Regions from separate parts of the Homo sapiens genome. Here regions 2, 3, 4 and 5 are each linked to region 1. Evidence: fine-mapped expression QTL. A gene starts in region 1. Each other region holds a variant in brackets. All regions are shown on one strand. Distances are from middle to middle. Region 1 holds the start of MIS12 (MIS12 kinetochore complex component). Region 2 holds the start of LOC101928044 (zinc finger CCHC domain-containing protein 9-like). Region 3 overlaps DHX33 (DEAH-box helicase 33). Region 4 holds the start of C1QBP (complement C1q binding protein). Region 5 has its middle 23 kb from the start of NLRP1.

Region 1 (6,387 bases):
CTCCTGTAACTGTTCAATTTCTTTCTGGAGATGCTGAAAATCTTCCTCACTATAAGGTGTCTCCTTACATTTATCTTCAGGAAGCAAGATGTTTGAGGGAATACGTAAAATCAGCTGCAAAAACAGTTGCTCCATTTTGCTAAAAAGGTTATCAAAATGTCCTTTCATGAAGCAAAGAAACTTCTCTGTGCATTTGCGAATCTGCACTGGGCTAATGTCACAGTCTGGGATGCCATCCAGCTTCTTCAGAATAACCTGTTCAACGGCCTGCATCACTTCAAATAGGTAGTCTTGAAATGCAATGTAGATCCGAAGCATGCACGTTTGTGGCGTGAAGCCAAAGAACTGGGCCTCGTAGGTCATTGGATCCACAGACATCTTGGCTTATTTTGCTATGTTGTTTTCAGTCGTGAAAAACCTGCAAATGTAAAAAGGAAATAATTCATTTGGAAAAAAAAAATCTTCTGCAGGAAGTAACCAATCACATTACAGATAGCAAACAAAGAAGCAAATCAATAAAAAATAAGGAGTTTGTGTTCCTTTATACCTGATGCCACTCCCACAACAGGATATAAACTCTTTGCCTCTCTGAGGCTCCTTCCATCAGCCTATACCCTCCCTTTTCCCCTCCTCGTTGTTCACTTCCCTTACCTGTGACTTTGGCACAGATCAGTCTTCTGAATTATCATCCTAGACAACTTTGAAGTCTAGACAGATGACTTAACCAATGCCCTAGAGACTCAGTTTCTTGAGCTTCAATGACCTATAGCTCCACCTTTTAGCCACCTGGCTCTTGATATTTGTAACTACTCTTCCAAACTGCTTCTACTTTTTGACTACTGCCTCCTACACAATTCTTCCAATTCTTACCCATATACTCATATTATACCCTAATCTTCAAGATTTACAGCCCCTCCACCCTCTCTTTCTGTTCTCAGCCTCTGCCACTTCTCTTCTTTCCTTATTCATTTTAGGCCTCATGATCTATCATTTTGATCACTCCGTTGCCAATGTCCTCAATTTGCTTGTCCTCCAGCCAAGCCATCTGAAAAAAACCCAATTAGAAGATGAGTAAGTCCCTTGTCAGCTTTATAACCCTGACATGTTTTTTCAAGGGTCTGCGAGTAATTCCTCTCAAATATAAACATCTAGGAAAATAAAACCCCTATCTCCTTGTCATTGTGGGAATTCAACCTAGGCATCTTTTTCTGAGATGAAATGATATTGCTTGTCATAGAAATAAGAGAAATTTTATTATTCCTTCAGATAAAGGCAATTAGCTAAAACAAACTGCTACTTCAATTATCAGGTGAATTTAGGACGCACTTTATGAAATAATTTGCAATAAGCAGTACAGTCAAATCTTATGGGAAGATAAGATGCAGCCAATCTTAAGAATTTATGTTTGTAGGCTGAGCACGATAGCTCATGCCTGTAATCTCAGCACTTTAGGAGGCCGGATGGACGAATCACCTGAGGTCAGGAGTTCGAGACCAGCCTGGCCAACATGGCGAAACCCTATCTCTCCTAGAAATACAAAAATTACCCAGGCGTGATGGTGGATACTTGCAATCCCAGCTACTCGGGAGGCTGAGGCAGGAGAATCACTGGAACCCGAGAGGCGAAGGTTGCGGTGAGCCGAGATTGTGCCACTGCACCCCAGCCTGGGCAACAGAGCGAGACTCTGTCTCAAAAAATAAAATAAAATAAAAATTTACGTTTGTAATGGTTAAATATGGAGTGGTTATAACTGTTTGGCTGTATATGTAAGGTAGGATTTCTTTCTGTTTTTCTTTTTTTCTTTTGAGACATGTTGTCGCTCTGTCGCCCAGGCTGGAATGCAGTGGCACGATCACAGATCACTGCAGCCTCAACCTCCCGCGCCCAAGCAATCCTCCCACCTCAGTCTCCCAAGTAGCCGGGACAACAGGTGCAGGCCACCATGCCTGGCTAATTTTCTTGTTGTTGTTGTTGTTTGAGACAAAGTGTCACTCTTTCGCCCAGGCTGGAGTACAGTGGTATGATCTCGGCTCGCTACAACCTCTGCCTCCTAAGTTCAAGTGATCCTCTTAGCTCAGCCTCCCAAGTAGCTGGGATTACAGGTGGGCGCCATCTCAAACAACAACAAAAAAATACACTTCCTTGATTAACTCCTTTCTTCGAATTCCCATTAGGACCTCTCTTCGGGCACTGACTGATGAACTTCTACCGCCTCATCTTCTCTGCTAGACTTAGAGTTCCTGAGAGCAGAATAAATGCGGCTTGATCAGTATTTGCCGATTCAACGCAGAGGTGCCCAGGTCATCTCGGCGAGTTGAGCTGTCTAAGACCCCGCGATCGCGCAGGACAGGACCCAGAAGCCAGAGCGCAGGAACTGCTTCCGGCCGGCTCCCGGCTTCCGTCGGGCCCCGCGCCCGCGCTGCATGCTGGGATCTTCAGGTCGGAGGCCGGGGTGAGGCCGACCCACAGGCCGCCTTGCTCCCTCGCGAAGACGCTTATGCCAGTCTCGCCCGTCCCCGCTCCTCCTCAGAGAAAATGCTGCCCCGCAGCACTTACCGGAGCGACCATGAGGGTGACGATTTGAAGCACACACAGGCTTCCCGCCACCTCCTTTAAACCGCCGCTGGCTTGCCAGGGACAGACGGCGCGGTTGGCTCCCCAAAATTCCGACTGATACGCGCCTCGGCGAGCGAAAGCAAACGCGGGATACTCTCGCGTTCCTGATTGGCTGGTTGTGGACACCTCAATTATGACAGAAAGGGGCCGGGCGGGAAAGTTAGCTGTGGCCGGCGGGGATTGGCAGAAGGAACCTGTACTTACTCGTTTTTCCCGGACGTTGGCTGGTGGAGAAGAGAGGGTGGGGAGATGGGGCGCTGGGGGGGGGCGGTGGCGACGCAACTCGTGATTGGCGGATGTGCGTTCCTTAGGTCTCTACGGATTGCGGTTGCTTGGCGTTGATTGGGCAGTCGCGGGAAAACTAAAGTGGGCGGGGGGCCTTTGGGCCCGCCCCGCCGCCGGGGCCTGCTGGCGGAAGGGGAAATGGGGTGGGTGGGGGGTGGGGCAGGCGACGGTGGGGAAGATGGCGTACCAGAGCTTGCGGCTGGAGTACCTGCAGATCCCACCGGTCAGCCGCGCCTACACCACTGCCTGCGTCCTCACCACCGCCGCCGTGGTGAGCAGCTGCAGTGCCACCTTCTCATTATCTGGGCTGGATATGACTGGGTCTTCAGGAAACTGGGGTTTGGGCCTCGGGGAGGCCCAGAGGGGCTGGTCCCGGGGATGGGTGGAGGCGTACAGGGATTACTCTGGGGTTCGAGTTGGCGCCAAGAATGCTTATCCAGTGACGCGAGAAGGGAGTGCTGCTTCATGGGGGGTCAGGTCAGTTTCTAAGAGATGAGCGCCGGACCTATAGCGGGTTAGGGTTGCGGGAGCCTCCCACCCAAGAAATGTGTCCGAGAGCTCTGCCAATGGCCAGGTGGTACCATGGTGACTAGTGAGAGGAAGGTCCGTTTAGTGAAGAAACAGGAATGGGGAAAGCAAGCTGGAAACTGTCGAGAGGGGAATGGCTTATAATAAAAAGGGTCTCTGGATCTAAATAAGGGGCTAGCTGGAGGTACCCAGCCCTAACGGTGGCAGGGTCTCCAGTCTCCGTTATTTCAAGTGAGTTTTGTTGTTTCATACAGCTGTTTCAGGTGGTGCCCATGTGGTGGGTAGATTCATAGCAGCTGTTTTTATTTGTCCTGTGTCTAAAATATCACCACCTGTCTGCCTCATTTCTTCATGTCAGCCTCAACTATTGCAACATAAAACAGACTTTTTTGTGTTAGGTATTGAGGATACAAAGAATTCTACCAATCCTAGAGAATTCTTTACCAACCTCTTCCTCTGGCCTAAGAAGAAAGGCTTAAAGGAAATCACGTCTAAGTGACCGAGAGTTGGAAATTGCTAGACCTACTAATTCTTTGTTGTAAATGATGAAATTTTGTTTCTTGATTTGCTTTAAGAAGCTCTTTTTCTATTTCAGCAGTTGGAATTGATCACACCTTTTCAGTTGTACTTCAATCCTGAATTAATCTTTAAACACTTTCAAGTAAGTGGTTCATCACAATAGTGATTAATGCTTCAGTTTCTTCTTTTTCTTACTGTTTAGTAGCAAATCCTGTTATACACTATCCTAAAAAAGAACCCAGTGGGGACCTTTGATTATAAGTTGCCTTGTCAGGATATAAAGCAGTGATTCTGCAGCCTGGTTGGACTTGAGAATCCCTTAGGGAACTTTGAAGAGATTCTCAAGCTCCTCAACAAGTACCAAATCAGAATTTGCAAGGGTAGGAATTAAAATCTGTGTTTTATTTTTAAAGTTCCCTGCATCGTTTTGATGTGTCCAGTTCCTGTATTTGGAAATCACTGGTTTAGACTTAACGTTGTCCTATGAGAGGAGGCTGACTAGCTAGCTGCTTAGGGGTTGTCTCACAGGGATGGCCTTATTTTGTCCATTCAGCACCTAGGCACACCCACCACCTTGGTGTTATCACCATGGTCCAGAAACTCAATTCTGTTAGTGCTTTTAAATTGTGATCTGTCTTCCAGGGATCAGATCATACTAACCAAATTCCAAACATCTAAAGCTATATGGTGGTTTATTAGATTACAATGGGAGATGGTCCTTTCCAGTGATTAAAATGCCAAAAGAGGCTGGGCACAGTGGCTCACGCCTGTAATCCCAGCACTTTGGGAGGCTGAGGCAGGCAGATCACCTGAGGTCAGGAGTTCAAGACCAGCCTGGCCAACATGGTAAAGCCCTGTCTCTTACTAAAAATACAAAAATTAGCCAGGCGTGATGGCACATGCCTGTAATCCTAGCTACTGGCGAGGCTGAGGCAGGAGAATCACTTGAACCCGGGAGGCGGAGGTTGCAGTGAGCCGAGATTGTGCCATTGCACTCCAGCCTGGGAGACAAGAGCGAAACCCTGTCTCAAAATAAAATGCTAAAAGAGAGATGGATTTTTCTGTTCCAGGATGATCTTACCATAGTTGGAGTAGGGGAGAGACCCAAAAGCCAATAACTGTGCCTCTACACATGCTGTTCTGTCTGTCTCAAATGTGTTTCATTCACTTTATATCCATTGAACTCTAGCTTGCCTTTCAAAACGCAGCTTTTGTGTAACCTTTATGTACTCATCCTCCTTTGTTTTAGAACATCTCTCACTTTTACTTTGCAGTTATGCGTATGCTTGTCTCCTCACTAGGATGAGGACTCTAAAATCTGGATAATTAATATGTAGAACTGAATTGTTTCAACTTTAATAGTTAACAATTCTCAAGAATTTAGTGGTCTGTAAAGCAGTCCTGTCATCTCTTGTCACTGTGTTCGCACAATACTCACATGGCGCTGTAGTTCCATCCAAGTAAGTCTTGCTTCCTACTTGGCTTTACTCTGCCTGGGGTTAAACTCTTGATGACACTGTGCATTTGGAGTTAGGAGTTCTAGATTTGCCATCAGAGTTTCCATCTACTCCTGCGGGTCCTTGGTCAGGACATTTAAAAGTTCAACTTTTAGCTGAATAACTAGTATTCAGCTAGTCAGTCAACTTTTAGTCTCCTATCTGTGAATTGGGGGTAGCTTGCTTGTCTGTGGATCACAAGAGATAGTAGACATTTTAAAACGTTAAGCACTCTACAATTGAGAGTGGTTACTGTGGGTGTGGAGATGTTGGGTAGGGAAGGGTCTATCAGGGTTTCCAACAAGAAAATAAGTGTTTGGCAGGGTGCAGTGGCTCACGCCTGTAATCCCAGCACTTTGGGAGGCTGAGGTGGATGATCCCCTGAGGCCAGGAGTTTGAGTCAGCCTGGACAACATAGTGAGAACCTATCTCTTTTTTTTTTTTTTTAAGTTTTAGTTTAAAAAAAAAGAATTTTCCTTTCTTTTAGATGTTTCTGACTGCCTAATGTAAACATTTCTCAGCAATTTATATTAGACCCTGAAGTTTTTCTCTGATATGTCAGTTCTATTTATTATATGATGATACTACATATGAAAGCACTGTTTTCTGTTCTGCCGATTAACCTAGTCTTTCCAGCAAACTTTCTCCATACGACGATCACAATTTAAAATTTTCTTTCCTATTATTATAAATGTCACAGTCCCAATGATGTCTTTCAGACTTTGAACTAAAAGCAGCAAAAAAAATCTAACATCAGATTATATGCCCCCGTTTTTGTTTCAGAACAGAGTATCACTCTGTCCAAGGCTTCTCAACCACCGCAGTCATAGGATGTTTCTTTTGTATTAATATGGAACTGTTTCCTGGTAATTTATTTTACTTAATACATCTTTCTCTTGATTTTTTTTTAACAGATATGGAGATTAATCACCAACTTCTTATT
Region 2 (6,387 bases), 24 kb before region 1:
TCTATCTTCTGTCACTGCTTCATGCTGAACAGGGGCCATCATCCCTACCTGCTCTGGAGGCATAGAAATGTCTTCGTACCTGATCGAATGACTTATAGGGACTCCATCTTTTCTGCAGTGGCACAGGCTGGAACACTGGACTAATTATTTTTCTCTGAAACTGTTGTAGCCTGGAAGACATAAACTTGAACCGTCCGAACACCTGATGAATATAACAAATATTTTTAAAATCAAATAGCACCTAGTGATAATTCATAAAATACTTAAGCCCAGTTTTAAAGAAGAGATCAAAGCCAAGCATGGTGGCTCATGCATGTAATCTTAACACTTTGGGAGGCCAAGGCAGGAGGATCACTTGAGCTCAGGCTTTTGAGACTAGCCCGGGCAACATAGACTTTGTCTCTTTAAAAAAATAAGAAAGAAAAAAATAAGAGATCAGATGCCATTTGGAATCTAAGTGAATAGGCTGGAAAACTAGTCTTCTGTTGTCTGAAATACAAAGCCAAACAGATTTTTAATAAGAGAGATTTTTATGAGAACAGAAGAAAAAAAGGTTAATGCTGGACACAGTCTATCCAGGTATTAGACTCAAAAGCATCTTTAGTTATAAAGCAGGAAAGTGGTGGCAATCTGACACGCCTGTATCACAAGGTATAAGCTTTAGCTTGCAGGGCCTCAGGAGAAAGCTAGTAGTAATTTTACTGTATGCAGATCTCTAAGCTGGGGGTGACACAGGAGGTGGGCAGGACTGGCTTCACAAGATGCAGGTCACAAAGACTCCACTGATAAGATGCGGTAAAGAAGCTGGCCAAAGCCCACCAAAGCCAAGATGGCAATGAAAGGGACTCCTGGTTGTCCTCACTGCTCATTATATGCTAATTTTCACCCTCCTGTAGGACCAGCTCCAGCAGTTGTGGGACCCAGTGCAAAATGGAAACACAGGGCCCCTCGTTCAAAAATGATAAGAATGTCAAGACGGTGACAACAGAACATGAAATCAAGCGCCAGGCCCTGCTGAGCTCAGGGCTCTGTGTGACCGCACAGGTCACACACCCATGAGACTGGCCTTGTCTTTCGGGTCCTTCACGCCCCACCCACCCATCTCCTTTACCACATGCAGACCTCCACTCTCCACACAACCCTTCCTCCAAGAGGACAGTCAATGGGAAGTAAGAAGATTTAAAAGACAAGGGGCAAAGAAAAATGCAATGGTGTGTTTCCATTGTAGAAAACCTGGTCGTGGAATTGCGGATTGCCCTGCCGCCCTTGAAAATCAAGATATGGGCACTAGAAGATGTTACAAGTGTGGGTCCACAGATCACGAAATAACCAAGTGTAAGGCTAAAGTAGACCCGCCTCTTGGCGAATGTCCTTTTGCAGAATGTTTTGTCTGTGGAGAAATGGGGCACCTGTCTAGATCTTGTCCTGATAATCCCAAAGGACTCTATGCTGATGGTAGTGGTTGCCAACTTCATGGCTCTGTGGAACATTTAAAGAAAGATTGCCCTGAAAGTGAGAATTCAGATCGAATGGCCACAGTTGGTCTGTGGGCAAAGGGAATAAGTGCAGACTATGAAGACATTGTGGATGCACCAAAACCACAAAAACCCAAAACAAAAATACCTAAAGGTGTTAATTTTTGATAACAACTAGTACTGTCATTAGTTACCACCTCATTGTTACTTTCTAAACCAGGCCCACTTCACAAGTTACAGCTGGGCTCCCTTGTAGCCAGGACTATACTGTAAATATCAGTATGATCTGGGTGTGGTCAAAAACAATTTTCAACAGAGAGAAAGAAGAAAGAAGAGAGAGAAAGAAAAAGGAAGAGAAAGAGGAAGAGGAAGGAATGAAGAAAAAGAGGAAGGAAGGAAGGAAAGAGAGAAAGGAAAGAGAAAGAAAGAAGAAAGAGAAAGAGAAAGAAAAAGAAAAGAGAAAGGGAGGGAGGGAAAGAAGGAAGGACCTACGCGAGGAGGGGCTCCGCCAACCCTCTAAGCCCCGCAACCCCCGCATGCCCCGCCTCCTTCTGCAGACCTCCCCGTCCCTCATCCCAGCAAGTCCTCACGTTAGTTGCCGGAAGCCTAGGAAATGTATTCCTAAATCTGGAGTCGTCTCCATGGCAGCGAGCCCCGAAGTGGAGCCAGTCTTGGAGTAGGAGAAAGGCCAGACACAAACAAGTGTGTGGGGATGGGGGAGACACACATGCATGTCCGCTTTGGATCCAGATTCTCTTTTTTTTTTTTAGACGGAGGCTCGCTCTGTCGCCCAGGCTGGAGTGCAGTGGCGCAATCTCAGCTCACTGCACTCACTGCAACCTCCACCTCCCGGGTTCAAACGATTCTCCTGCCTCAGCCTCCCGAGTAGCTGGGATTACAGGCGCCCACCACCACACCCGGATAAATTTTTGTATTTTTAGTAGAGACGGGGTTTCACCATGTTGGCCAGGCTGGTCTCGAACTCCTGGCATCAAGTGATCCGCCCGCCTCGGCCTCCTAAAGTGCTGGGATTACAAGTGTGAGCCACCGTGCCCGGCCTGGATCTGGATTCTAATAGCAACAGCTAGAATTCTGAGGGACAGGCAGTGAGCTGGGAATCAAATTCTTGGCTCTACCACCCATTAGATGTGTGATCT[TG/G]AAACAGGTTTTCAGATGTGTAAGAAGGGAATAGCAAAGCTTGCGTCAAACGGTTGTTTGACTAGGTGAGCTCATGAGTGGGAAGTTGTTCTGGGCGAGCTGGTACACAACACTAGGCAGACAGTAAATCTTAGCTTCTTTGAGCCTGAGGCTGTTGTAGGTGCCAGTGATAACAGAGGCCAGAGTATCTATTCTCAAGCAATTTATATTCTAGTGGCAAGGAGATACGAAATACGCACCCATGTCTGTAATCCCAGCACTTTGAGAGGCGAAGGCCTGAAGATCTATTGAGACCAGGAGTTTGAGACCAGGAGTTCAAGACCAGCCTGGGCAACATAGCAAGACCCCGTCTCTTAAAAAAAAAAATTTTTTTTCATTTTTTTGGCCAGATGCAGTGGCTCATGCCTGTAATCCTAGCACTTTGGGATGTCAAGGCGGACGGATCACCTGAGGTTAAGAGTTTAAGAGTTCAAGACCAGCCTGGCCAACATGGTGAAACTCTGTCTCTACAAAAATACAAAAATTAGCTGGGCATGATGGCAGGTGCCTGTAACCCCAGCTACTCGGGAGGCTGAGGCAGCAGAATTGCTTGTACGTGGGAGGCACAGGTTGCAGTGAGCCGAGATCACGCCATTGCCCTCCAGCCTGGGCAACAGAGCGAGCCTCTATCTCAAAAAAAAAAACCAGTTTTTTTAATTAGCCGGGCATCGTGGTACATGCCTGTATTCCCAGATACTCTGGAGGCTGAGGCAGAAGGGTCCCTTGAGCCTAGGCTCCAGTGAGCCATAATCATGCCACTGCACTCCAGCCCTGGAGACAGAGCAAGATCCTGTCTCTAAATAAAAATAATTGGCTGGGTGCTTACCTATAATCCTAGCACTTTGGGAGGCTGAGGCCAATGAATTGCTTGAGTCCAGGAGTTTGAGACCAGCCTGGGCAGCATAGTGAGACACTGTCTCTATTTAAAAAAAAAAAAGAAGAAGAAGAATAGAAGAAAGATCTTTTTGAATAGAGATAGATGGCAACTTCCTCAGAATGGATGTGACGGTTGAACAGCACATGGAGATGATGGGAATGAGAAGTGCAGGGCAGCAGGGATCATTCTCAACAATGGTGGAAAATTGGAGTCTTCCAGGATCACTGTGTTCAGACTAATCCACCCTACATGAAGTTTTCTTTCTCTTTAAAGTGGGCCACTTGGAACAGGGACCCCTGTCAAAGAATGCATTCAAGAATCATGGATTTGGCTGGGCGAGGTGACTCACGCCTGTAATCTCAACACTTTGGGAGGCTGAGACGGATGAATCACCTCAAGTCAGGAGTTTGAGACCGGCCTGGCCAACATAGCAAAACCCCATCTCTACTAAAAATACAAACAAAATGAGCTGGGCGTGCTGGCTCATGCAGTGAGCCGAGATCACGCCATTGTACTCCAGTGTAGGCAACAAGAGTGAGACTCCATCTCAGAAAAACGGAAGAATCATGGAATGCTTCCACCAGGCACTCTGATGGATGGTGGGAGCCCTGGGCTGAGCTTAATGCCTTTCCTGAAGGAGTCACTCTCCCAAGGAGTAGGATTTGCCAGGTGCTAGAATCCGATAGAGGCCATGAGCAATACTTGTCTCAATGGTGGGATAACTACAGATTTAAACTTTGAGCCATGCACACACTCTGGTCCAGGCCCCAGTCCTGGAGCAAGAAGGAAGCAGGGGAAGGAAGAAGGTCCTCTGGAACCTGTGATTACCTGTGTTGTGTCAGGTTGTATGATTGTGGGGACCCCATTGAGTGCTACTCACAGGTTAGCCCCAGGCAGGTAGGAATGAGAAGGAGGAGAATAGGAGAAGAAGAGGAAAGGCTAGACAGGAGCATGACTGTTGGAGAGAACTTGAAGGGAAGTCTAGCAGTAGTATGGACGCTGTGCTATTGGTCAGGAGTCCTGCTGTGTTCTTGGTTTCCTAGCAACTGCTGTTAAGCAGGTAGTTGCTAGGCAATGCGGGGCCATCTAGGCGGTTAGGTAAGGACCTTTGTCTGCGTGGGCATGAATCAGACCATCACAGAGTATTGTTAATCCTGAAAATGGCCACTGGGTCCATTACTTAGATTTTTTTGGCCTTGTTGCACAGAAACTAATATAACCATGGTGCACAAGTTCTGGTCAAATGAGAAAGAAGTCACCCCATGATCTCATTATCCAAACAATACAAAAATTCTGTCTTTCCTCTTTCCATTCCAGTCTTTCTCTGCAGGAACACATTTTCATCTTGTTATCATCCTAGTACATGGGGTTTTAAACCTTGTTTTTTTGACTTTGATTTAGATCATCACAAGCATCCCTCAAGCTACTTAAGAGTTTTCAGGATAATCTTCCCCTGCATGACTCCTTGCAGTAGATATATCATTTACTTAACTATTCTCCTCTTGTTCTGACATTGAGTTTGCTTCCAATTTTTTGCCACAATAAGCAGTACTGCAATACACGTCTTTCTGCAGAGAGCTTTTCGTTATCCTTTAGATCACTGTCTTGAAGTCAATACTAAGGGATAGTATCAAAGGGCATAAATAGTCTCATGACTTTCTATATTTTGCAATAGCTTCCCTCATGCTGGGTGCAGTGGCTCAAGCCTGTAATTCTCACACTTTAAGAAGCCAAGAAGGAGGATCACTTGAGGCCAGGAGTTCAAGGCCAGCCTAGGCAACATAGCAAGACTCTGTCTCTACAAAACAAATTTATTTTAATTTTTATTTTTCTTTTGAGACAGAGTCTCGTTCGGTCACCCAGGCTGGAGTGCAGTGGCGCAATCTCAGCTCACTGCAACCTCGGCCTCCTAGGTTCAAGTGATTCTCCTGCCTCAGCCATCTCAGTAGCTGGGATTACAGGTGCACACCACCATACCCAGCTAATTTTTTTTTTTTTCTGAGACCGAGTCTCGCTCTGTCCCCCAGGCTGGAGTGCAATGACACGATGTCAGCTCACCGCAACCTCCGCCTCCATGGTTCAAGCAATTCTCCTGCCTCAGCCTCCTGAGTAGCTAGGATTACAGGCGTGCGCCACCACGCCTGGCTAATTTTTGTATTTTTAGTAGAGATGGGGTTTCACCATGTTGGCCAGGCTGGTCTCGAACTCCTGACCTTGTGATCCGCCCACCTAAGCCTCCCGAAGTGCTGGGATTACAGGTGTGAGCCACTGCGCCTGGCCGCTGGCTAATTTTTTTCTTTTTTGAGACGGAGTCTCGCTTTGTTGCCCAGGTTGGGGTGCAGTGGCGCAATCTCGGCTCACTACAACCCCCGCCTCCCGAGTTCAAGCGATTCTCCTGCCTCAGCCTCCTGAGTTTCCAGTAACTGGGACTACAGGCACGTGCCACCATGCCTGGATAATTTTTTGTATCTTTAATAGAGACGGGGTTTCACTGTGTTAGCCAGGATGGACTCGATCTCCTGACCTCGTGATCTACCCGCCTCGGCCTCCCAGTGGGATTACAGGCGTGAGCCACAACACCCAGCCAATTTTTGTAGTTTTAGTAGAGGCAGGGTTTCACCATGTTGCCCAGGCTCGTCTGGAACTCCTGGACTCAAGCAATCTGCCCACCTCGGCCTCCCAGAGTGTTGGAGTTACAGGCTTGAGCCACCATGCCCGGCTGAATTTCTTGATTCTTTAATGGCTGGTTTTTGTTTTCTTTTGATTTTAGAAGGCCTTAATTTGAAGACCTTTAATTTAATTTAATTTAATTAATTTAATTTATTTGAAGACAGTTTG
Region 3 (6,387 bases), 24 kb after region 1:
AGATGAACAAGGCACTACGGAGCCCAGAGGAGGGCCACTGTGCAGCCAGGGGAGCGTGTTTGAGGCCTAACTCATCTTAGAGTTTGCGAGGCAGGCAGTGTGAGGGCAGGTGTTCTGCCCATAGTGTGGGCAGAGGCAGAGGGTTTGAAGGGAGGCAGCAGGCTGGGGAGTGGCCAGGAGTTGAAGGCAGCAGTGCATGAATGGATGTCTCTTCATGTCAGTCAGTATGCAGAAATCTATGTAACGGTTGTATTTTATTTTATATTTTAACTATGTAAATTACCTTTTGAACATTTATATTGTTTCCAATTTTTTTCTGTCAGGAGCAAAATTGAATAAAATCTCTTTGAAGCTGTATCTTTATACACATGTTTACTTATTTTGTTAGAATCAATTTCTGCAAGTAGAATTGTGGGTCAAGGGATATAAACATTTTAAAGATTTAAAAAACATAATTTGACCACCTGAGAAACAATACCAATTAACCAGCTAATTTCACCAGCAGTATACATACCTGAATGCCCATTCTCCTGAGGCTTTACCAACACAGGGTATTTTATCTTTTACTTCTGACTTTGAGCTGTTTGTTTGGTGAAATTTATGTCAATTTGCTTTTTGTTGTTGTTGTTTTTCTAAGACAGGGTGTCATTCCGTTGCCCATGCTGGAGTGTAGTGGTGTGATCATGGCTCACTGCAGCCTCAACCTCTCAGGCTCAAGCAATATGCCCACCTCAGCCTTCAGAGTAGCTGGGACCACAGGCGTGCACCACCACGTCCAACTAATGTTTGTATTTTTTGTAGAGACGGCATCTCCCTATGTTGCCCAGGAGCAACTCCTGGGCTCAAGTGATCCTCCTCCCTTGGCCTCCCCACGTGCTAGGATTACAGGCATGAGCCACTGTGCCCAGCCGATTTGCATTTCTTTTTTTATTTTTATTATTTTTTTTGAGACAGTGTCTCACACTATCTCCCAGGCTGGCATGCAGTGGCACAATCATGGCTTACTGTAACCTTGAACTCCTGGGCCTCATGATCCTTCTGTCTCAGCCTCCCTAGTAGCTGGGACTACAGGCACATGCAACCACACCAGGCTAATTGTTGTTGTTGTTGAGACGGGGTCTTGCTATGTTGCCCAGGCTGATTTTGAACTCCTGGGCTCAAGAGAGCCTCCTACCTCGGCCTCCCAAAGTGCTGAGATTATAGGTGCCAGCCCTGGTGCCGAGCCCCAGTTTGCATTTCAGTGAGCCTTTTTTTTTTTTCCCCCTCTCTCCTAGGGGAAACTGGCTCTGGGAAGACAACTCAGATCCCTCAGTACCTGTATGAAGGAGGGATCAGCCGCCAGGGCATCATTGCTGTGACCCAGCCTCGTCGAGTAGCTGCCATCTCTCTTGCTACTAGAGTCTCAGATGAGAAGAGAACTGAACTTGGGAAGCTGGTACCTGGTTCCTTCTTGACTATTAGTACTTCTTGACTCAACAGCTCTCTCCCCATGCCCACTGCCTTTTATTTTTCTAAACAAGACTCCTTTTACATAGTGAGCTGCTTTCTTGCCTATTCTTCCGAGAGTTCTTTACCAGCTCCTGAGAGATCAGGGGCTCTATTGGTCCCATGTGCTTTGCTTTCAAAATCTGTCGTCAGGTTGGATAAATTAGTTGCTTTCCTTGAACATCTTAAGCCTTCAGTAACCTCTCTTAACTCTCTTATCTATATATCATTCTAGAAAAATTGTAAGCATTATGCCAGTGTATATGTGAGTATTGAGAATGAGTCTCAGAACTGTATATAAGACAGATTTATTTGTGTGTGTGTGTACTCATTTCACTTAAAAATACCTTAGACGTCTTTTCATATCTGTACATAGCTTCACATGAAACTTTTTTTTTTTTGGAGATAGTCTCGCTCGGTCGCCCAGGCTGAGGTGCAGTGGCGCAATCTTGGCTCACTGCAACTTCCGCCTCCAACCAAGCAATTCTCCTGCCTCAGCCTCCCGAGTAGCTGGGATTACAGACACGTGCCACCACACCCAGTGGCTAATTTTTGTATTTTTTAGTAGAGACGGGATTTCAGCATGTTGGTCAGGCTGGTCTCAAACTCCTGACCTCGTGATCTGCCTGCCCCAACCTCCCAAAGTGCTGGGATTACAGGTGTGAGCCACCACACCCGGCCCACATGAAACTATTAAATAGCTTGAGGTAGAAGGTTAATTTTAAATATTCCTTGTAATAGTTACATTAATTGCGGTTAAAGTAAACTTGACCATTGTCTCTCTCAGCAGCTAGACTGCATGCTTCCCAAGGGAGTGGGAAGCGTTGGTGTTGGTCTTGTTCACTGTGGTAGTGCAAGTGCCCAACTTAGTGCCGGACACAGTGGGCGCTCAAGAAATGTTTGGTGACTGAATAAATTGTTTCCCTGCACAGGTTGGCTATACAGTGCGCTTTGATGATGTCACCTCAGAAGACACCAGGATCAAGTTTCTGACAGATGGCATGCTTCTGCGTGAAGCAATTTCAGACTCTTTGCTTCGGAAATACAGCTGTGTCATTTTGGATGAAGCTCACGAACGGACTATCCACACAGATGTGCTCTTTGGAGTGGTGAAAGCTGCACAGAAGAGGAGAAAGGAACTCGGGAAACTTCCTCTGAAAGTATGAGGGAAACTTCCCCTGAAAGTATGAGGGAAACTTCCCCTGAAAGTATGCGTAACACACAGAAGGAAACAGGCCTGGCTGGGCGCGGTGGCTCACGCCTGTAATCCCAGCACTTTGGGAGGCCAAGGCCGGTGGATCACCTGAGGTCAGGAGTTCGAGACCAGCCTGGCCAACGTGGTGAAACCCCGTCTCTACTAAAAATATAAAAATTAGCTGGGTGTGGTGGCACACATCTGTAATCCCAGCTACTTGGGTGGCTGAGGCATGAGAATCGCCTGAACCCAGGAGGCGGAGGTTGCGGTGAGCTGAGATCACACCACTGCACTCCAGCCTGGGTGACAGAGCGAGACTCTGTCTCAAAAAAAAAAAAAAAAAAAAA[G/AG]TGAAAGTTCATTAAATAGCATAACTTTATAGACAACTTGTATTTCAGGGAGTTGGCAGAAATATGATCTGAAAGTATCCAGATAATTGGCCCGGCACGGTGGCTCACGCCTGTAATCCCAGCACTTTGGGAGGCCGAGGCCGGTGGATCACCTGAGGTCAGGAGATCGAGACCAGCCTGGCCAACGTGGTGAAACCCCGTCTCTACTAAAAATACAAAAAATGATCCAGGCATGGTGGCACATGCCTGTCGTTCCAGCTACTAGGGAGGCTGAGGCAGGAGAGTCACTTGAACAAGACTGAAATTCCGTCTTGATTTTTTTTTTTTTTTGCACTCTGTTACCCAGGCTGCAGCGTGGTGACGCGATCTCAGCTCACTGCAAGCTCCGCCTCCCAGGTTCACGCCATTGCTTACCTCAGCCTCCCAAGTAGCTGGGACTACAGGCGCCCACCACCGCACCTGGCTAATTTTTTGTATTTTTAGTAGAGACGGGGTTTCACCGTGTTAGCCAGGATGGCCTCGATCTCCTGACCTCGTGATCCGCCTGCCTCGGCCTCCCAAAGTGCTGGGGCTGGGATTACAGACGTGAGCCACCGTGCCCGGTGAAACTCCATCTCAAAAAAAAAAAAAGAAGGAAAGGAAAGGAAACAGACCTGTGTGCTCTAGCAGGGTGTTTTCCTCTGCCTGTTCTGCTCAGAGCCTTGGAAGAAAGTAAACTGTGATGGGGGTGGCACAGGCCTCAATCATCTGCTTTTGGGGCTCGAGAGGGACACGGAAAGGCCTTCCCACTATTTGTTTCTGGTCCTCCTCTTCGTTCTCTTATGCAGGTGATTGTGATGTCAGCTACGATGGATGTGGACCTGTTCTCTCAGTATTTCAATGGCGCCCCCGTCCTCTACCTAGAGGGTCGGCAGCATCCGATCCAGGTGTTTTACACCAAACAGCCTCAGAATGATTACCTGCACGCCGCGCTTGTCTCCGTCTTCCAGATCCACCAGGTATGGTGCTGGGGGCAAATTCCTGAAAAGTTCTCTTTTATCTTGCAGTTGGTAGTGAGAACATTGAGCCTTGAAAAGAAAAGCTACTGAATAAAACAACTTTGTGAGTTGTGTCATCAAGATGAATAAGGAGGCCAGGTGCGGTGGCTCACGCCTGTAATCCCTGCACTTTGGGAGGCCGAGGCAGGTGGATCACCTGAGGTCAGGAGTTCAAGACCAGCCTGGCCAACATGGTGAAACCCCATCTCTACTAAAAATACAAAAATTAGCCAGGCATGATGGCGGGTGCCTGTAATCCCAGCTACTCGGGATGCTGAGGTGGGAGAATCGCCTGAATCCGGGAGGTGGAAGTTGCAATGAGGCGAGATTGCACCACTGCACTCCAGCCTAGGTGACAGAGGGAGACTCCGTCTGAAAAAAAAAACAAAAAAAAAACAATGAATAAGGAGTTCATTTGCTGTGTCTGGATTTTTATCCTTTATTTATGATATCTCTAATTTTCATTGAAAAGAAAAATAATTCAGTTCTGACCAGCAGCTTTCTTACACTGAGCCAGAAAATTTTCATGTTAAAGCAGTAGCTTACCAACTTTCCTTGATTATAACCGCCATTAAGAAGTACTTTTGGCTGGGCACAGTGGCTCACGCCTGTAATCCCAGCACTTTGGGAGGCCGAGGCGGGTGGATCATGAAGTCAGGAGATCGAGACCCTCCTGACTAACATGGTGAAACCTCGTCTGTACTAAAAATACAAAAAATTAGCCGGGTGTGGTAGCGGGCGCCTGTAGTCCCAGCTACTCGGGAGACTGAGGCAAGAGAATGGCGCGAACCCAGGTGGCAGAGCTTGCAGTGAGCCGAGATCGCGCCACTGCACTCCAGCCTGGGTGACAGGGCGAGGGTCTGTCTCAAAAAAAAAAAAAAAAAGGTACTTTTTCTTTTGCAACCCCGTACGCTATACATATAACTGAAATAGGTCTATGAAACACTGCTTCTGGCCAGGCATGGTGGCTCACACCTGTAATCCCAACGCTTTGGGAGGCTAAGGCAGGAGGATCACTTGAGTCCAGGAGTTCAAGACCAGTCTGACAACATAGCAAAACCCTGTCTCTATAAAAAAAATTATAAAAATTATTTTTTAAAGAAGAAGTACTGTGTCTTTTACTACATGTAGGGTACTCTGATATTTTGTGCCTCATTTAAAGAAAATGTTGGCTGGGCACAGTAGCTCACACCTGTAATCCTAGCACTTTGGGAAGCAGAGGTGGGTAGGATTGCTTGAGCTCAGGAGTTTGAGACCAGCCCGGGCAACATAGCAAGACTTGTCTCTACTAAAAATCAAACAATCAGCCAGGTGTGGTGGTGCATGCCTATAGTCCCAGCTACTTGGGATGCTGAGGTAGGAGGATCACTTAAGCCTGGAAGATTAAGGCTGCAGTGAACTATGATCACCGCACTCCAGCCCGGGAAACAGAGCAAGATCCTATCTCAAAAAAAGAAAAAGTTGACATTAGCCCAATAATGGGTTGCAACTTAGAGTTTCTTTTTTTTTTAAACTATATTAGGAGAATATTTAAAAATATTTTCTCATTTTATTAAACATTTACTTCAAAAATTTGAATCATTAAGTCACTTTTGTTTAATTTGTATAAAATTTAATGTTTTTACCTTCCTATTAGCTTTCTGAGAAAATCCAGAGGCAAACTTTTAAAATAACTTTTTATTTAATTAATTTACTTATTTAGAGACGGGGTCTCATTCTGTCACCCAGGCTGGAGTGCAGTGGCATAATCACAGCTACTACAGCCTCGATCTCCTGGGCTCAAGCCGTCCTCCTACCTTTGCCTCCTGAGTAGCTGGAACTACAGGCACACACCAGTACACCTGGCTAATTTTTTTTTATGTTTTGTAGAGACAGGGTCTTGCTACGTTGCCCGGACTGGTCTCAAACTCCTGACCTCAAGTGATTTTCCCGACTCAGCCTCCCAAAGCACTGGGATTGCAGATGTGAGAAACCGTGCCCAGTCAATTTTTATTTTAAAATAAGTGATGCATATGGGATTTAAAGTTTTAAAAAGTCAAGTAGTTTATAGTAAAAGGTTTATAATAAAAGAATAGCAGTTGTTTTTACTTCAACATCCCAGATTTCTGCTGTTTAGGGCACCTACTTTCAATCTCTACATATTGCTTTCATGTTTCTAAACTACCTTGCTTTGACCACTATTTTTTGAGTTATGGGTATCAGGCATCATATGCTAATTTCTTACCATGGTGACAAAAGTTTAGAATGCCCCTCCCCAACCCCCTTTATCTCCAACCTCTTGACAGTTCTATCATGTTTTTGTTTAGGTTTTTGTTTTTGAGGC
Region 4 (6,387 bases), 47 kb after region 1:
TCCTGTGCAGTCAAGCTCTCAGCTAGTGTTTAGGGCTGTCTGTCAGAAATGGTTATACGTGGGCAAAAGAAGATCTGACAGCTCCTATATACCTTATCTTACTGAATTCTTAAACTTTGAACCAGTTCTTCCACTTACTGACTTGTTACCACTGCTGACTTTCTGAAAAGTTTTCCAGTTTTTGTTTTTTGTTTTTTGTTTTCCAGTAGGGGATTAGAATGTTTAGTCCTACTTAGTAAGAAAAATATTGTATTTTTAATCATTCATAGTGCTGGTAAAAAAAAAAAAAAAAAAAAAAAAATTGGGGGGTGGCCGGGCGCAGTGGCTCACACCTGTAATCCCAGCACTTTGGGAGGCCAAGGCGGGCGGATCACCTCATGCCTGTAATCCCAGCATTGGGATGGGAGGCTGAGGTGGGTGGATTGCTTGAGAAGTTCAAGACCAGCCTGGCCAACATGGCAAAACCCCGTCTCTACTAAAAATAGAAAACTTAGCTGGGCATGGTGGCACACGCCTGTAATCCCAGCTACCGGGGAGGCTGAGGCACAAGAATTGCTTGAACTTGGGAGGCAGAGTTTGTAGTGAGCCAAGATCACGCCACTGCATTCCAGCCTGGCCGACAGTGTGAGACGGTCTCAGAAAAAAAAAGAAAGAAAGAAAGAAAAAGAAAAAACTTGGGGTAATTTATGTCCAGCTTAAGTACCTGAACAGTTTCCGGAAATGTATATTTTTTTTCTGAGAGGCAAAGGATGTAAACAGCTTCTAAGTAGCTTTAATGTTTCTGTACAGAAATAAGTTTATCCCTGTAACATTGTGGTAGAGTTTTAATACAGTATTTAGTTTTTTATTGGGCTTTTTTAAAAAGTTAACTTTTAACATAGCTGCTCAGGGATTAAATCAGATTGGAAAACCCATTCTGACTCCACATACTGCTACAAAGAAATACATCGTTGTTTATATTGAGCTGCAGGAGATAGTACACTTTAAACTTAAGAAAGTTAAATGTTTCACAATAACATTGCAATATAATCTTCAGCTACTCTCTTTCCATTGGTAAAATCTCTGATGGTGTGATAACTCTTTGCCAACCTACGAAACCCATATCTGGAAGAATCACCAGCTCCCGTGAGCAGCTTCATGTAAATAGATGCACTCCAAGCAGATTGCATGCCTCAGGTGTTTGTCTTCTAGTAATCATGGAGTGTGCAACACCCAGAGTAACACTACAAGGGGCAGGACTGCAAACAGCAGGTCCTGGCTAAAAACCCTTAATGCTGCATTGCTGCCAGTTGTAAAGAGATGCCTGAATGGAGGCAAGTTCTGCCCTGTGGGTGAAACTGATGATGTACTGTACTGTCATATATAAATCCACTAAATCCAGCTACCAGGAACTGCCTGGAACTGTGGCCATGCATTTTTTTTTTTCTTTAAAGACCAGTGTGATAGTAGGCCATGCATCTGAGATACGATATTCCTTGGTAACTAGAGGGAGAAAAAAAAATCAAGTAGGTTCAGGCTTATGTTGTATTTTGAGAGTCTGGTTTTATTTGAACAGAAATAACTCTACAGAAAGCTCTTGTAAATAATGCTCAAATTTGCACCCGACGATCAAATCCATTAAAAATGAATCTTGTATATGATGTGTGTGGCTTGTTTCTTGCATCTCTTTTCCATTATTCATAGAAAATTATTTAGAAAATATTAAGTGTTAGTCTTACCATGAGTTAGTAAGACATACCTTCTTAGTAGCTTATATGTCCTGTATATCCTGGGAAGGTAGGATTGTTGATTTTTAATAAATCTGAACCCTGTCTTTGGGTTATATTAATTTACTGGAGAAACTCACAGAACTCAGGGAAACACATTTACCGGTTTCATACAAAAGATATGACCAAGGATACAGATAAGGAGATGAGCAGGGTGGGGAATGGGGAAGAAGCTCCCAGCCTCCATGCCGTCCCTGGACCACCACCCTCCAGGAACCTCCATGTATTTAGCTATCAGAGGCTCTCCAAACCCTGTCCTCGGGTTTTTATGGAAGCCTCTGGACTTATCTAAATGATATAAGCTGGCTTCTTGTCCCCAGAAAAATGATGTTCCATTAGAACTTGGATGCAAGGTTGGAGGTGCAGAGAGGGAAGGTCACAAAAATTAATCATGGATCCTGCCCTTGAGGATGTCACAGTCTGGTTGGGTTTAACCTGGTTAAAGCAGCAACGCTAGGAGGTTCCTGTTGAAAAGAGAATGAAGCATATGGGCTGGGTGCGCACAAGCATGAGTTCCGAGCCGGTGGAAAAAAAGGTTCTAGAAGGCCTCTTTCAGGAAAACCCTCAGACTTTCCTTTGCTCTCACAACACAACAATCAACACAGAAGACTTATGTGGCCAAAGGTTTGGGTTTTTCCCCTCCACACTAAGCAGCAGACACCAGCTGGGTGTCCTCCAATTCAATCCCAACAGTATCTACCTGGAGATAGTGTCAGATCCCATAGGTTGAGGGCTCAGTCCCCAAGACCGCCCCCACCTTCAGACAGCAATGGCAAGTCTGGGCCTCTGAAACTTCCGACCAACCCGCTTCAAGTTGGGGTTCCCACGACCCCCCTCTTTGGATTATGTTAACTCACTGGAGCAGTTCACAGAACTCAGGGAAACACATTCACCGGTTTCATATAAAGGATATGACCAAGGATACAGATGAGATGAGCAGGGTGGGGAATGGGGAAGAAGCTCCGAGGTTCCTTGCCTACCCTGGGCCACCACCCTCCAGGAACCTCTACGTATTCAGCTGTCAGAGGCTCTGCAAACCCTCTCCTCTTGGGTTTTTATGGAAGCTTCTGGACATCAGCATCCCTTCCCCCAGGGTATATGGTGGGACCTTCTCTGGGAAGGGACTTAAGACCCATAATCAGAAATGTGGAAGGAGATTAGAGTCCTGCTTTGGGGCAGGTAAAAGGAGGGCAGGAGAAGGGGAGAG[T/AGAGT]CTGTTTCCTGAGGCCTAACACACCCAACATTATCACAGAACATTGTAACAAGGGCTATAGGAGTTACGACCCAGGAACTGTGGATGAAAACCAATACATATATATATCATAACACCACAGCCTCCTAGAGGAAAGTGACCGTGGAAGGGTCTGGTGAGAGCTGGCGGGAGACAAGAGTGCATTCCACGCAGCCCAAAAGCCTTGCGTGCTTTGAGAACAGCAGGTGGAAAGTGGGTAAGCGGCCACTAGAGGGAATTAAACAGCTTCGGACAGCGGACTCGGCAGCGCAGCAAGAAAGCTCCGGAATCCGGATTCGAGGCTTCCCGGGCTGCACCGGAGTCTCCAGCAGAGGGCGCGATTCCGCCCGCTGGCCTTAGGTCGTCAGAGCGCCGGCGCGGGAAGCGCTTCCGGGCAGGGGCGGGGCTTCCGGCGGCGCCTCAGGTCGCGGGGCGCCTAGGCCTGGGTTGTCCTTTGCATCTGCACGTGTTCGCAGTCGTTTCCGCGATGCTGCCTCTGCTGCGCTGCGTGCCCCGTGTGCTGGGCTCCTCCGTCGCCGGCCTCCGCGCTGCCGCGCCCGCCTCGCCTTTCCGGCAGCTCCTGCAGCCGGCACCCCGGCTGTGCACCCGGCCCTTCGGGCTGCTCAGCGTGCGCGCAGGTTCCGAGCGGCGGCCGGGCCTCCTGCGGCCTCGCGGACCCTGCGCCTGTGGCTGTGGCTGCGGCTCGCTGCACACCGACGGTGAGGTTTAGCGGGCCGGGGGTGTGGTTTGCGTTCAACAGAGGGAAAACGTAGACCAGGAATAGGGCCTGCAACCGACCTCTGAGGTCTGGGACATTTTTCCATTGATTGGCAACCAGCGGGCTAAACCCACGTATGATCATATTTCCCCCACCTCCCCTATCCAGCAGTTTCGTTTTCTTTTGGTAGGGGGTGAATAAAATTAAATACTAGGGTACCTTTTTCCTTAGTCTTATTCTATCGAAAGTGGACCTTTGGGAAGGCCCATGGTCGTGGTTGAAAATAGCATAGTTATATCGTTTGGCAAGTGGAAGAGGATTGGAAATTCTCCTGGTTTATAGCGGAAAGTGGTAATGCGTTCATTGTTGGAAATCACTTTTCCAGAATCAGGCTCAGCTTCCTACTACTATTATGGTATTTTTACCGATAAGGAAACAGGCTTCTAGAGTAACCGTAATAGCAGAGAGATTAGAAACAGTCCAGGTTTCTGGCTGCAATAACCTGGGTAATAGTTTTATGTTTTAGACTAACTGGCTTTCCTTTTTATGTATCTGGATTTCTTTTCTAGGAGACAAAGCTTTTGTTGATTTCCTGAGTGATGAAATTAAGGAGGAAAGAAAAATTCAGAAGCATAAAACCCTCCCTAAGATGTCTGGAGGTTGGGAGCTGGAACTGAATGGGACAGAAGCGAAATTAGTGCGGAAAGTTGCCGGGGAAAAGTAAGTACTGGTCTGGGGATCCCAGGGCAGCAACTCCCTTAACCTTGCAGGACCCATCCTGGGTCATCCCCAGAAGAGCCTTGAGTTCAGGTGTGGATACTTTGATAAATGGGTTTCAAGAGAGTGAAGGATTCATTTGGACAACTTCGTAAGCCCCAGGCAGTCCATTCACCGAACACAAATTTGCTGTGGGCTGGTTACTAAGGAGACAAAAATGTAGTGCAAAAAAGTACTGGCAGAATCAGTTTGATCTCTGATTTACAGCCCTGATAAAATAGGACACTGCTCTCTAATGTTTAGTATGGGTGAAAATGAAAAATATGTAACTTCTATGTAACAGGATGGGGTTACACTGTAGTAAGGGCTGCCATCAGAGGTGGGGAGTTTGTGACCTAAGTCAGCTCCCCCATCATCTCCTAAACTGTTAAAGTGTTTACACTTTTCTGCATTATAGTCATCCATAATCTCATTACACAGATAAACATTTGGCATCTTCCAGGTTTTTAAATTGAGCCTGGGCGCGGTGGCTCACACCCATAATCCCAGCACTTTGGGACGGGCAGATCATGAGGTCAGGAGAAAATCCTGGCTAACACTAAAACCCTGGCTCTAGTAAAAATTAACCGGGTATGGTGGCACGTGCCTGTAGTCCCAGCTACTCGGGAGGCTGAGGCAGGGGAATCGCTTGAACCTGGGAGGTGGAGGTTGCAGTGAGTCGAGATCGCGCCACCGCGCTCCAGCCTGGGCAACAGAGCAAGACGCCATCTCAATAATAAATAAATAAATTGAATTTCCTTCATAATTGACCTTATGATGTGTATGTAATTTTTTTAAATCACAGCTTTTATGAGATTTAATTGAGATGGCATACGATTTACCCATTTATTGAAGTTTATTAAATTAAGTGGTTCTTAGTCCTCGCAGAATTATGCATCAGTTATCACTACCTAATTCTAGAACACTGTTGTCATCCCCAAACAATACCTATTAGCAGTCACTCATTATTCCTCCCTGTAGCCACCCCAGGTAATCACTAAGCTACTTTCTCTATGGGATTGCCTCTTTTGGACATTTCATATAAATGGAGTCATACAATTTGTAGCTTCCCCCCCCAACCCCACGGAGTCTTGCTCTGTCACCCAGGATGGAGTGCAGTGGTGCGATCTTGGCTCACTGCAACCTCTGCCTCCCAGGTTCTGACAATTCTCCTGCCTCAGCCTCCTTAGCTGGGATTACAGGCGTGCGTCCGGTTAATTTTTGTATTTTTAGTAGAGACAGGGTTTCACCGTGTTGGCCAGGCTGGTCTCAAAGTCCTGACCTCGTGATCCGCCCGCCTTGGCCTCCCAAAGTGCTGGGATTTCAGGTGTGAGCCACCCTGCCCACCCTATTTACCTTTTTAATTGTTGGGTTGTAAAAGTTAAGTTTTTCTGGGTACAACTATCTTATCAAATTAATGATTTGTAAGTACTGTTTCCCATCTTGTGGGTTTCCTTTTCACTTTCTTGGTAATGTCCTCTGACACAAAAGTTTTTAATTTTGAGGAAGTTCAGTTTACCTATTTTTTTGGTCGCTTGTGCTTTTTTATTTATTTTTTACTTTGCTTCTAATTCACCAAGTGCAACTTGTGCTTTTTTAGTGTCACGTCTAAGAAACCACTGCCTAACCCAAGGTTGTGAAGATGTATGCCTTAATTTTTTCAAAGTTTTCTAGTTTTAGCTCTTAGTTTAGGTCTGTGATTCATTTTGAATATGGTGTGAAGTAGGGTCCTGATTCTCTTGCCTGTTGCATAGTGTGTTTTTGCCCTACACAGGTCAATTGTGTCTTCTGTAATCTCACCTAAACACCATTTGCGCAAGGTTTTCATAGCTATTTGGGGGCCATTAAAAATAATGCTCTGATGAACGTCATTCAATTTCTGTGCCCAGGAGCTCAGCTTAGTCAGCACAGTTGGAATTAGA
Region 5 (6,387 bases), 120 kb before region 1:
GACCTTGTCTCTATGAAAAATACAAAAATTAGCCAGGCGTGGTGGTGTGCACCTGTAGTCCCAGCTACTAGGGAGGCTGAGGCAGGAGGATTGCTTGAGCCCGGTTGCAGTAAGCTGAGATTGTGCCACTGCACTCCAGCCTTGGCGACAGAGCCAGACCCTGTCTCAAAAAATAAATAAATAAAACAGTGAGGACAGTGGAACTAGAATGTCAGATGTCTGTTGTAACTTTCACTTTTCCCCCTCCAAAGTCTGTGGTAGACTCACAAATAGATCAAGCCACCTTTTCCTCTGAGCCTGAACTTGAATTCGGAATTAATCTCCAGAAGGTACACCTTGTGGCCACCACTAAAATGATCTGAAGTTGGTTCATTAGATGAAATGATTGTTGTATCCTGAACTAGAATTGCCTCACTTAGAGCAAGATGTAACATTGGCTATCATCCAGCTCACCCTTCTTCTGAAGATGCAGGAATTTAGGTCCAGAGAAAGAAACAGCATGGCTGAGAGCACACAGCTAGTTAATGGAAGGCCATGCCAGAATCTGGGCTGGTATTCCTTTCACACCACACAGCTGGAAAGAGAGGGCGCTGGTCCTCAAATGCAGGTCTTCCAGTTCCAGGGATGTCCTCTCCCTCTGCTCTCTCATAGACACAGAACTGGGGGAAATGATTCCACTGGGTGGAGGGAGAGGGGGCTCTTCTTATTGCTTGGTAGGAGTAGAAAACCCTATGAAAGGCGCAGCCCTCTGTCAGCCCTCTCTACAAAACTCACCGTCTTCATTCACACTGCTTCACTTGACATCTTTTCTGTATAGTCTTTGAAACGATTATGTCAACATAGGAAAGGAAAGAGGTTAACACACTACAAAAAGGCCAGAGAGAAGAGCAGATGAGAGCTCATACTGGATGGAGATCACCTGGGTTTGCATCTTGACTCCAACACTTACCAGCTCTGTGATGTTGGGCAAGTCACAAGTCACTTATCTCTCCGTGCCTCAGTTTCCTCACCTGTAAAGTGGAAATACTAATAGTAATTACCTCAGAATGGTTATGAGGAGGCTGTTTAATATATATGTTAAATGTATGTAAAATATACATATAGGACTTAGAAGAGTCTCTGACACTTAGTAGAATTATACAAACATCAATTGTTACCTATTCCAGTTTTATTACCTTAGAGTTGTAGAAAATGCAGCAATTTGGAAAGCTCTGCTCTCTGCAGCCTTGCTCTCACCTGGCAGCATTCTGTCACCAACCAAATGAACCTGAAAGCCCCTCAGCCACCTCCAAGACATCACGACTTCACATACGTCATATGGACATAGGTGGTGAGAGATGCCCCTAAGGAAAAGTTCTTTTTCCATTTGATGAGAAACTAGAACTCAATTTTCAAGAAAGTCCGCATGCTTTTAGAGCTGCTTTTAGCAGAAAGGAGCCACTGAGTTGAAAGTTTCAGGGCCTTTTCTATTGGTGTGTGTGACTCATTTAGAGCAATGGTGATAAATGAGAGAAGGTCATGGGAGCTGGGGCAAGGCGGCAGGATTTGGTGGGGGGAATCGGAGCTCCATTGTTCGCAATGGATTGCTGGAGGAAATGCTGTTTGCTTGGGAGTCATTTGCAATTAACTCCACCTAGGATGAAAAATGGTGTGGGTATGAAAATGTTATACTACCCGTGTAATAATAAATCGTTAGCAGATGCTGTGGGCATGAAGATTGTTATTAGTGACTTTGGGGAGAAAAAGGTTTGTGGGAAATGTTTGATTCGAAGGGAGGACATGGTTCTTGCTCCAGCCCTGCCTGTTTGGTTGGCCACAGCACTGGGAGTTTATAGAATGGCTTGAAAAGGAGAAAGGCGTCATGTGCAGAGGGACCTGATCTGGCTCGTCCAAGCTGATGAGAGCTCTCTGTCCAGATGTGGAGGCCTGGAGCTCACCGTGCCCCTCCCGTAGGGAGACTGTATCTGGGCTTCTCGCTCTACTTTAGGTCCTGAGTCCTTGGAGGTCTGGGGCATTGCTGCTCTTGTGCATACCTGAGGGCCTCTGGCTGGAAGTGTCACACTCCAGGAAGAGCCACAATTTGGTTCAGCACAGCCATCATTTTTGGGGTGCTCTCTCTGTGCCAAATTCTCAACTCAACTCTCACCAGAGTGTTCCAAAAATTCAATCGTAAGAAGCAACAAAAATGTCTGACCCTCCCTCTCCCAAGAGTCTTCTGGGTAATCAAAGCTTGCAGCACATCCCACAAATATCTGCCTTTGCAGCCTTGTCTTGCACCCAGCATGGGCCCGGATAGTGCAAGGCTGAAGCACTCAGTGTTGGATAGCAAAGTGCTGGGTGGTGCAGTGGTTAAGCGTGGGCTTTGAGGTTAGCCCTGACCAGATTTGCCTGCAGCTTTGCCTCTTCTTAGTAGTAGTGTGGTTTTTGGCAAGTGAGCTCACCTCACTGATCCTCAGTTTTCTCACCTCTCAAATGGGCAAACAAGTAATATGTATCCTCAAGTACTTTTTTTTTTTCTTGAAACAGGGTCTTGTTCTTTCACCCAGACTGTAGTGCAGTGGCATGATCATACTTCACTGCAGCCTCAAACTCCTAGGCTTAAGCAATATTCCAACCTCAGCCTTCTGAGTAGCCAGGACCACAGACACATGCCACCATACCTGGCTAATTTTCTCTACCTTTTATAGAAACAGGGGGTCTCCCCATGTTTCCCAGGCTGGTCTCTAACTCCTGGCCTCAAGTGATCTTCCCGTGTTGGCCTCCCAAAGTGCTAGGATTTCAGGGCTGAGCCACAGTGCCCAGCCCCCACGTAATTTTTGAGGATTAAATAAGATATAGAAAACACTTAATCCAGGCCAGGTGCGGTGGCTCACGCCTGTAATCCCAACACTTCGGGAGGCTGAGGCAGGCAGATCACCTGAAGTCAGGAGTTCGAGACCAGCCTGACCAACATGGTGAAACCCCATCTTCACTAAAAATACAAAATTAGCCGGGCATGGTGGCGCATGCCTGTAATCCCAGCTACTGAAGAGGCTGAGGCAGGAGAATCACTTGAACCCAGGAGGCGGAGGTTGCGGTGAGCTGAGATCGCGCCATTACACTCCAGTCTGGGCAACAAGAGCAAAACTCCGTCTCAAAAAAAAAGAAAAGAAAACACTTAGTCCAATCCTGGAGAGTAGTAATAAGTCCTCACATGTTTTCAATGGTGACGTGTCAAACCCCTCACCGTGAGGGTTTCCATATCCAGGCTCTCCCCCTCCTGCCACCCTTCCCTTTGGTGCACTGCTTCCTCCCTGAGGCAGCCTAGCCAGCACTTCAGAGCATGAACTTTGGGCTCCACGGCCCCATCTTTAAGCCCTGGCTTCTCTACTCACTAAGTCTGCAAACACAAAGACGTGTCTTAGTTCTCCAGGCCGTGGTTGTCTCATGTGTAGAATGGGGATAATAGTGGCATATGCCACATCCGTGCTGTTAGGAGGGCTAAGTGAGACAGCGGCAGTAAACCACCGGGCACATGGGATGTGC[C/A]CCTCAGTGCCGAGTCTCAGAACTCTGCTAGATGCTGTGGGCAGGAGGACTAGAACAGGAATGAGGTCCATGCCCCAGGAGCTTGCAGTCCAGAACTCCATGCTGGCAAAGAGGCGTCTTGGTCCAGGCTCACTCTGCTCAACATTGGGGTGAGCTGGGGCCACAGATCTCTGCACTTCAGCACTCCTTTACCCCATTCCCCTCCCCCTCCTTCACTGCCATCGTCAGCCAAATCCTGTTTCCTTCACACCTGAGATCCACAGACAATTGGGCTTAAATCCGCACTTTCTCACTGTGTGACCTTGACCTTGGGCATGTTGCTTAACCTCTCTGAGCCCATTTTCTCACCTGCAGCTGTAGGGACCAAATAAGATGGAGCAGGCAGCATTCCTAGTCCAAAGCCTGGCACTGTTTCCAGGTTGAACTGTTCCCTCCATCCTTACTTTCGGTCCTAAGTGCAAACTTCTCTCTCTGCCATCTCCTCTCCAGATATATACTGTGCCCAAACACTTCTTCCAACACAGTGTGCCCTGTGGCTCCTGTTGTATTGGAATCAGAGTCTTCTGCATTCCACATCTTCTCTAGAACCACTCTTTCCATTTGCATCTTAGGGTAGAAACAGTGGCTCTCTCCCAATGTTAGCTCTCCTCACTGGGGTAGATTATTGTGTTTATGGCTCCAACTTTGTTCACTCTTTCTTTTTTTTTTTTTTTTTTTTTGAGACAGGGTCTCACTCTGTCACGCATACTGGAATACACAGGTACAATCACAGCTCACTGCAGCCTCAACCTCCCAGGCTCAGGTGATCCTCCCACCTCGGCCTCCTTGGTAGCTAGGACTACAGGTGCCTGCCACCACACCCAGCTAGTTTTTGTATTTTTTTTTTTTTTTAGAGATGGGATTTTGCTGTATTGCCCAGTCTGGTCTCAAACTCCTGGCCTCAAGTGATCTGCCCACCTCGGCCCCCCAAGTGCTGGGATTACAGGTGTGAGCCACCACACCCAGCCCTTTCTCCATCCCCTTATCTTCCCCTTACCTGATTCAGTACTTGCTGTGTGACTTGCTTCAGCCAATGGGACAATAGCAATGTGTGGCAAGAAGATATTTGGAAAGTGTTTGTGCCCTGGGGCTTGTTCTCTCTTGTGGCTCTTGGAACCCTCAGACAATCAGAGGAAGAGCGGCTCCAGTCATCCCAGCCATCTCAGCAAAGATGTCATAAACCCCACAACCCGAGCTGACCTATGAGCTGACCAAAAATGCAGGAGAGATTTAGGCCCAACAGAAGAACCATCCTGCTAAACACAGCCCAAATTGTTCACCTACAAAATCTGAACGTAATAAACAAATGATAGTTTAAGCAACTAAAATTTAGGTGGTTTGTTACACAACAAAAGCTAACTGAGGCCGGGCACAGTGGCTCATGCCTTAATCCTAGCACTTTGGGAGGCCAAGGTGGGTGGATCACCTGGGGTTAGGAGTTCAAGACCAGCCTGGCCAACATGGTGAAACCCTGTCTCTACTAAAATTAGAAAAATCAGCCAGACGTGGTGGCAGGAACCTATAATCCCAGCTACTTGGGAGGCTGAGGCAGGAGAATCGCTTGAACCCAAGAGGCGGGGGTTGCAGTAAGCCAAGATCATGCCACTGCACTCCAGCCTGGGTAACAGAGCAAGACTCCATCTCAAAAAACAAAAAGAAGCGAAAAAAAGCTAACTGATACACCCATGCCTACCGTGCAGCACTCAGGTGTTTTGGATGGCCTCTAATTAGTCTAATCCAATCTGGATAATCCCAGTCTCCTTGCCACAGGCTCTGGGATGAATAGAATTGAGCCAGTCAGCACACGAAATCCACCAGCCACCAACTTGTTCAGGAAAGGGCATGGGATCCAATTCAAGCCAATGAAACCACAGAGAGGTTTGCTGGAAGATTCTGAGAATAAAGCTTCCTTTATTATGAAAAATCTTTCAGACAATTTCTCTTCCTCTGGATTTTATGTGTGGATGTGGAGCCAGAAACTGCTACCTCTTTTTTGCCTCCAAAAAGGAAGCAGTCTGAAGACAAAGACTAAGCAAAAAGAGAGTACAGATGAGGGAATTGCAGAAAAAAGGACACTGGAGCCTTTGGATTAAGCTAACCTAAGACCATTGTACACATGGGCTTCACATTATATGAGCCAATAAATTTCCTTATTATTTAAACCAGTGTGAGTAAGGTTTTCTCCTATTTGCAGCCAAAGTCATCCCAATTGCTGTATCTCCTATCATAAAATGAAGAATGTCTCTTAAATGAATACACTTCCCACAATAACTTCACTCTGCAAGCGCTTCCCCCAACCTACCTGGTGACAAATTGAGGGCCCTAGTCAAGGAATGAGCACCTCACTCCCTCTGAGATAATGGATCTCTTCCCTGGGAATTTTTAAAATGTGTGTCCCAGAAGGTCAGTCTCTTTGGTGATTAAAGCTATAAGAAGTAAACCTCAGAACTGCATTGTGTCCTGCCACATGAAGAAAGTGATTCATTATGGAAACGGCAAATGAAACAAACATGTCCAAGAAGCAAGATATGGACAGAGAAAAGGACAGAGACACACATACAGTGAAAGACCTGTTGGCGTTAAAATCCCTGGTTCCAATAGTTCTTGAGACCCAGTTGCTTCCCTGACTGTCCCATAGCTTGACTAATCTACCCTTCCTAGGATACTCGAAGCCAACAAATTATCCTTCTCTTGCTTAAGTGTTTTTGAGGTTGGACCATTCTGTAATTTTCAGTCTGAAGTGATCTTTAAAATGTGCTCTACACTCCATCCCTTGATATCATCCTTGATGAACTCAGCATCCAAGATGATATCACTCTTGAC

The links. PIP is the estimated chance that this variant, and not a neighbour inherited with it, causes the effect.
Region 2: its variant is fine-mapped to the expression of MIS12 in whole blood (INTERVAL, PIP above 0.99).
Region 3: its variant is fine-mapped to the expression of MIS12 in whole blood (INTERVAL, PIP above 0.99).
Region 4: its variant is fine-mapped to the expression of MIS12 in whole blood (INTERVAL, PIP 0.92).
Region 5: its variant is fine-mapped to the expression of MIS12 in whole blood (TOPMed, PIP above 0.99).

The regions. Positions count from the first base shown.
Region 1 is chr17:5,482,854-5,489,240 of GRCh38, reverse strand. It overlaps MIS12 (MIS12 kinetochore complex component), which reads right to left and starts at 2,675. Exons shown (of 3, transcript NM_001258217.2): 1 at 2,557-2,675; 2 at 652-1,045; 3 at 1-418. The coding sequence starts at 378. DERL2 (derlin 2) reads left to right here and starts at 3,063. Exons shown (of 7, transcript NM_016041.5): 1 at 3,063-3,172; 2 at 4,025-4,090; 3 at 6,359-6,387. The coding sequence starts at 3,080. RefSeq lists enhancers at 2,056-2,165, 2,406-2,505, 3,126-3,185, 3,226-3,405 and silencers at 2,679-2,846, 2,796-2,955.
Region 2 is chr17:5,507,296-5,513,682 of GRCh38, reverse strand. LOC101928044 (zinc finger CCHC domain-containing protein 9-like) reads left to right here and starts at 957. Exons shown (of 1, transcript XM_047437231.1): 1 at 957-1,731. The coding sequence starts at 1,056. The coding sequence ends at 1,643. It also overlaps a transcript of NLRP1 not described here. The variant TG/G (reference allele first, on the strand shown) is at 2,633.
Region 3 is chr17:5,458,577-5,464,963 of GRCh38, reverse strand. It overlaps DHX33 (DEAH-box helicase 33), which reads left to right. Exons shown (of 12, transcript NM_020162.4): 2 at 1,275-1,435; 3 at 2,418-2,645; 4 at 3,855-4,025. Among named protein-coding and RNA genes, the nearest start is that of DHX33, 7.2 kb to the left of the region's middle. The variant G/AG (reference allele first, on the strand shown) is at 3,028.
Region 4 is chr17:5,436,165-5,442,551 of GRCh38, reverse strand. It overlaps C1QBP (complement C1q binding protein), which reads left to right and starts at 3,397. Exons shown (of 6, transcript NM_001212.4): 1 at 3,397-3,710; 2 at 4,279-4,429. The coding sequence starts at 3,479. DHX33 (DEAH-box helicase 33) reads left to right here. Exons shown (of 12, transcript NM_020162.4): 12 at 1-1,635. RefSeq lists an enhancer at 3,001-3,180 and silencers at 3,240-3,422, 3,401-3,570, 3,681-3,730. The variant T/AGAGT (reference allele first, on the strand shown) is at 2,974.
Region 5 is chr17:5,604,087-5,610,473 of GRCh38, reverse strand. No RefSeq gene overlaps it. Among named protein-coding and RNA genes, the nearest start is that of NLRP1, 23 kb to the right of the region's middle. The variant C/A (reference allele first, on the strand shown) is at 3,526.